Linked DNA regions of Homo sapiens: region 1 is linked to region 2. Evidence: fine-mapped expression QTL. A gene starts in region 2. The other region holds a variant in brackets. All regions are shown on one strand. Distances are from middle to middle.

Evidence for each region. PIP is the estimated chance that this variant, and not a neighbour inherited with it, causes the effect.
Region 1: its variant is the best candidate, but not a certain one, in a credible set for the expression of PCIF1 in monocytes after LPS (Quach 2016, PIP 0.66).

The regions. Positions count from the first base shown.
Region 1 is chr20:45,961,682-45,964,181 of GRCh38, forward strand. ZNF335 (zinc finger protein 335) reads right to left here. Exons shown (of 28, transcript NM_022095.4): 8 at 2,057-2,309; 9 at 1,792-1,969; 10 at 389-501. Among named protein-coding and RNA genes, the nearest start is that of ZNF335, 9.3 kb to the right of the region's middle. The variant GT/G (reference allele first, on the strand shown) is at 1,134.
Region 2 is chr20:45,932,983-45,935,972 of GRCh38, forward strand. PCIF1 (phosphorylated CTD interacting factor 1) reads left to right here and starts at 1,701. Exons shown (of 17, transcript NM_022104.4): 1 at 1,701-1,822. It overlaps LOC107985388 (pre-mRNA-splicing factor cwc22-like), which reads right to left and starts at 2,089. Exons shown (of 1, transcript NR_171669.1): 1 at 512-2,089. RefSeq lists enhancers at 1-319, 602-751, 1,011-1,702, 1,703-2,393 and a silencer at 2,022-2,231.

The DNA of each region.
Region 1 (2,500 bases), 28 kb after region 2:
TAAGAACTTGTGTTTCTCTGTCTCAGGTGCACTCTCAGCCCTGTGAGAGATGAGTAGGATCTGGAGTCCAGAAGATCTTGGATCATTTACTGAACTCCTTTAGGTACACAATTTCCTTCAATCCCTTCAACAACTGTCCCCGTTTGATGAGAAACTAAAGCTCACAAGAGGTAAGAGGCTGAGCTGGGGACCTCAAGGCCTGGTACTGTCCTGTTCTAAGCCAAATGAACTGGGGTGAACTGCCTTTCTGCTCATGCCTGTAGTGTGCAGCAAATGGGGCTGGCTCAGAGCAGGAGCACGGTAAGTGGGAACCATGGTTATCCCGGGCCTCCACTTCCCCACCCAACCTGGCCTCTCTTGCCCAGGTCCCTCCCACCCCCACACTGACCGGTCCCGGCTGTGCACAGCGGCGTGCCGAATGACGTCCTTCCGGTAGACACTGGTGTAGCTGCACTCGTCACACTTGTAGGGCTTGCTGCCCACGTGGTTGAACATGTGCTCCTGGGAGACAGACAAAAGGATGGTGGGCTGGGGCTTGGCCTCCTCTCCCATCCCCGTCCCCACCATGCCTGTGGCCACAGTCTTAGGGTTGCTGCGGGAGCAGCTCACAGAACACAGGCATGTGGACAACACACCCCGACGCAAGGGTCAAAACCTAGGAAGGCCCGGGGACTGTCCCCAGCGAGAGCACCCACTCTGTGCCAGGCTCTGTGCTGGCTCACAACTTGACAAAGAAGGAACCTGAGTCTCAGGGTGGAGGGACCTTGCGATGGCAGAGCTTGGAGCTGAAGCCAGGCAGCATGGCGCCGCAGCCTCCACCTCTCCCACTGCGTCACGAGACATCTTCTCTGCAGAACCCACATAACAGCCCACAGCACAGCGTGCACAGAGCACAGGGGCTCGCTCTGACCACCGTGCCCGGAAGTACCCTCTCCCACAGCTGCCAACTTGCACATTGGCCAGGCCGAGCCACAGTTTCCTGGGGGTCAGTAGAATGGGACTATGGACACCTACGACCTCATTGGGCTGCAATAAGGATTTAATTATCCAGTTACTGCATAAAAGGCTCAGGGCTGCTGCAGGCCACATGGTAGCTTGTGTTAAGGAGAAAAAGGAACCGTTTTTTTTTTTTT[GT/G]TTGTTTGTTTTTTTGAGACAGAGTTTCGCTCTTGTTGCCCAGGCTGGAGTGCAATGGTGTGATCTTGGCTCACTGCAACCTCTGCCTCCCGGGTTCAAGCGATTCTCCTGCCTCAGCATCCCAAGTAGTTGGGATTACAGGCATGCACCACCATGCCCAGCTAATTTTGTATTTTTAGTAGAGATGGGGTTTCTCCATGTTGGCCAAGCTGGTCTCAAACTCCTGACCTCAGGTGATCCACCTGCCTCAGCCTCGCAAAGTGCTGGGATTACAGGAGCAAGCCACTGCACCTGGCCTAAAAGGAACCCTTTTCTTGAGACACATGACTGCCATCTGCTGGAAATCTTTCTAACACATGGAATCAGATGAAAACAGTTTTATGGCGTCTGTGGTGGTGAAGATATGCTGCCACTGTGCACTGTGCCGCCTGCAAAACCGCCTGTGGCAGCCCTTCCCAGCCCCTCCCCACATTCCCGCAAGCTCTGAGGAGCTGAGCGTTCTTCGGTACGCCAGTGAGCCAGACACGCGTTCTGAAGAGCAGCAGGAGAGCGTGACCCAGAATGCTCTGTGACTCCATTCTCCCTCAGTGGCACCAGCTGGCCTCTGCTTGCCTTCTTCACCCTCCCATGAGCCCCAAGCCTCTTTGGCTCCCGCACCTTGAGCGAGGACCAGCGGCGGGAACGATAGCTGCACTGCAGGCACTTGAAGAGCTGGGGATCGCCAGCCTCATGGGAGTTGACGTGGAAGCGCAGGTCCTCGTGGGACAGAAAGCGAGAACCACAGATGCGGCACAGGAAGGGCCTCAAAAGTGGTTTGGGCGACTTGTAATAGTACCTGCAGGATGAGAGTGTGGCGGAAAGGTCTGGTGGGGTTGGTGGCTTAACCACATGCATGCCCCACCCTCACCTCTGCTCCACATACTTGCGGTATTTCTTGCCTAGGAAGCGCCTGGAAGGTCGACCTCGGCGCCGGGGCAGAGTGTCATGCTCATCCGGGCAGGAGGGGGCTGCGTTCTCTGCATCTGACTGGCTCACACCAGCTTCCACAGGGGTCCTGCTCACCTTGCCCATGGCCACCAGGTGTCCTGGGCCTGAGGAGCTGGGAGCCTCGGGATCCTGTGGCTCTGGAGGGCTCTGTCCACTCTGGGAACTCACTAGAGGCTCTCCTTCCACACCTGCCACGGACATGCCAGGTCACAAGCCAGCCACTGACACACCAGGACAGACGTGGACAAGTGGGCCAGAGGCCAGCCAAAATATCCTCCCACCCACTCATCACAGACCACTGATGGGTGCATTGAGTCACATGACACAGACAGCCTGTGGTTAGAGGGCAGCATGGATACTACCGCCCAACAGCCGACAT
Region 2 (2,990 bases):
ATTCTCCTGCCTCAGCCTCCCGAGTAGCTGGGATTACAGGCGCGCGCCACCAGGCCTGGCTCATGTTTGTAATTTTAGTAGAGACGGGGTTTCGCCGTGTTGGCCAGGCTGGTCTTGAATTCCTGACCTCAGGTGGTCCACCTGCGTCGGCCTCCCAAAGTGCTGGGATTACCGGGGTGAGCCACCACGCCCGGCCCAAAGCAGGGCACTTCTGAAAAAGGAGGCAATATTAGTAATTATGCCAGGGCAGCAGGCATAAATCAAAGCTGGCCCCCCACCCTTCCAGAACTGAGACAGGACCCAGGAGTCTGGTTTCCCATCAGGCCTCTTATCTGAACGAGAAGCTCTGCGAGGGCAGAACTGCTGTGCCTATATAGAGCTGGCTTATTTCTGGAGGGCTCAAATCTACTTGGAGCAATGCTCATGCCACTGTGAGATGATCACGGCTAACCGATTCAGCACTTAGGAAGCGCCAGGTATTGCGCTGAGGACTTCACATGCATCACCTGAGTTAATTCTCACCAAACCTTTATGAGGTAGGCGGATTTATTATCTTCCACTGAGGAAACTAAAATTTAAATTGGTTAACTCCTTCAAGGCCACACATTTTGGGTGGAGGAGCAGGGATTGAAATCAGATGAGGATCATGAACCCTCGTTCTCAATTACTACTCATATCGGTGCCTCCGTTTTTCTTGAGCGTCCGCCTGCCTGCCCCCACGCTGGCGTGCAGCCAGGACCATGGACATCTGAGAGGCTACTCAGCCGGGGTACCTACAGCCCCTGGCTCCACACAAGCGCCGGTCTGACAGCAGGTGGCAAGCTTTTCCTCTTCTCAAGCTAGCACTGGAAGGGATGCTTGCTGGGGAGACCGGAGATGGGTGGAGCTACCACTCGGACGCCTGCAGGCTCCTACCAAAAAGAATCCTGCAGGGAGCCGGATGAGGAGCACCTCACAGCTGCCAGTTCCCTGCCAGGCTACCCGCTGTAGCTGGTTTGAGGGCTCAGTGAGGCTTTGAACTGCAACTAATGGCCACAGATGTCAATGTTGGAAAGGCCCTACAATGCATTTAGTTGATTTCCCAACTCTGCCGAAAGCCATCTCTATTACTTGCCCCCGAAGGCTAGTTTAAGTTGCTTCTACTCAAGAGCATTTACAGCTTGGGTTCGATGTATATGTAGCCCGGGCATGGGGCAGGGCTTCTTAACATTTGGACACCACGCAGCACAAAGGCCCAGAGAGGGAAAGAGACTGGCTGGAAGAGGCAGAGCCGCGCGGGTGCCAGGACCCAGGTCCTTGCTACGTCCGGAGCCTACGTCACCACGATGCCTCCCCTGGGCCGGCGGCAGAACCCGAGACCCCCGCAGGTTCTAAGACAGCCCCCACGCCCCCCAGTGCGCACGCTCAGTCCAACCCCGCCGCGCACCGCCCACCGCGAACATCCGGCTCCTGCGTGTGTGCTCGAGGGGGAAACTGAGGCGGGGACGTGCCAGTGAATTCATTCCTTCCTCAGTCCACCCGCAGGCCTACAAAGCTGTCTCCCCTTCCTCAGCGCCACAAGGAACAGCAGGGACGGATGGGAAGAAGGGGAGGGGGCCGAAAGCAAGCTGGGTGCGAGGAGCCAGCCGACCCTGCCACACTCAAGATGGCGGCGCGGCCGCGGCGAGGTCCCTCAGAGGCGGTACCAGCGCATGCGCAGCGCGGAGTCCCGGCCCGGGACACAAGATGGCGGCAGCGGCGCTGGGGAGGGCGAGGCGGAGGCGGCAAAACGGGCGGTCGAGCAGAACGTGTAGCCGCGTCCCCTCCAGTCCGCTCCGGGCAGGTAAGAGTCCCAGGAAGCCATGGTCCCGCAGCGAGCCGCGCCAGGGTCTGGGGATCCGAAGCTGGGGGGCGGCGGCCCCTCCGGCGCTTTCTGCTCGGGACTGCCGCTTGCCCTGTCTCTGTTGCCGCCGCCATCTTAGACCCGCGGGTGGGCGGCCGCGCCGGTGGCCGAAGTGAGGGAGGTGGGCCCGGAGAGCCCCAGCGGAGCGGGCTCTAGGGCCCCTCCGCTGCTGCCGCCGCCACCGCCTTTGTGTCGGGCTCCGACTCTGAGTCGCCTCAGCCCGGGGGCGGGAGCGCGCGGCGGGGCGGGGGGCGGAGCCCGAGAGATGGGCCGGCGCGCGCGCGCGCGCCAAACAGCCCACCCTCGCTGGGGTAGGGGGAGGGGAAGGTGCGCGCGCGCGCGCGCGCTGGAGCTCGCCTCTCGCCTTCGTGCGCCGTCGCGCCTGCGTACTTTGTTCGCCCTTTGACTCCTCCCTACTGGGCCGGAGAATTCTGATTGGTACATTGCGGAGATGGTCCCGCCCCACGTGCCTCCAATCCCGGACTCGGACTCTGGCTTCTGGTGGGTTTTTCTGGTTGCGCAGATAGAGTTGTTTATCCTTGAGCAGCGGTAATTCTCAAACTGCGGTATGCGTGGGGGTCGGGAAGCCACAGGATAAATAAAGACGTTAACTTAAGAGCAGTTATGTCTTACTGGGAGCGTACAATGCTGGACTCTACATATAACGGTCGAGTGATTCCGGTTTATAAGCCGGAAAGCAGAAGGGCCCGGAATCCGGGTCTGTCCAACCCAGGGGCTGGTACTTCGGCCACAGACCTGCTGCGCTCAAGTCACATAGGAAATTAAAAATGGTTTTAATTGCAAAAAATGGGTACATTTTTTCAAATAGTGTGAAAAAATGAGTCATCCTGTCTCCCAGTCACTCTTACGGTGCGTTTTAAAAATACAAATTCTTGTGTGCCTCACCTCCGTATTTATTTCTGGCTTCTGAGATGCGCAGTGAGGCACAGGAGTCTGATTTTTTTTTTTTTTTTACAAACTCCAAGATGATTCTGATGCACAGCTGGCTTTGGAAATACTGCAGTGTCCCCATTTAGCCTCACACTAAGCTGTGCCGCTTGTGCGTATTCTGCAAAGTTCATCTACCCGGTGCATCAATATCACAGGA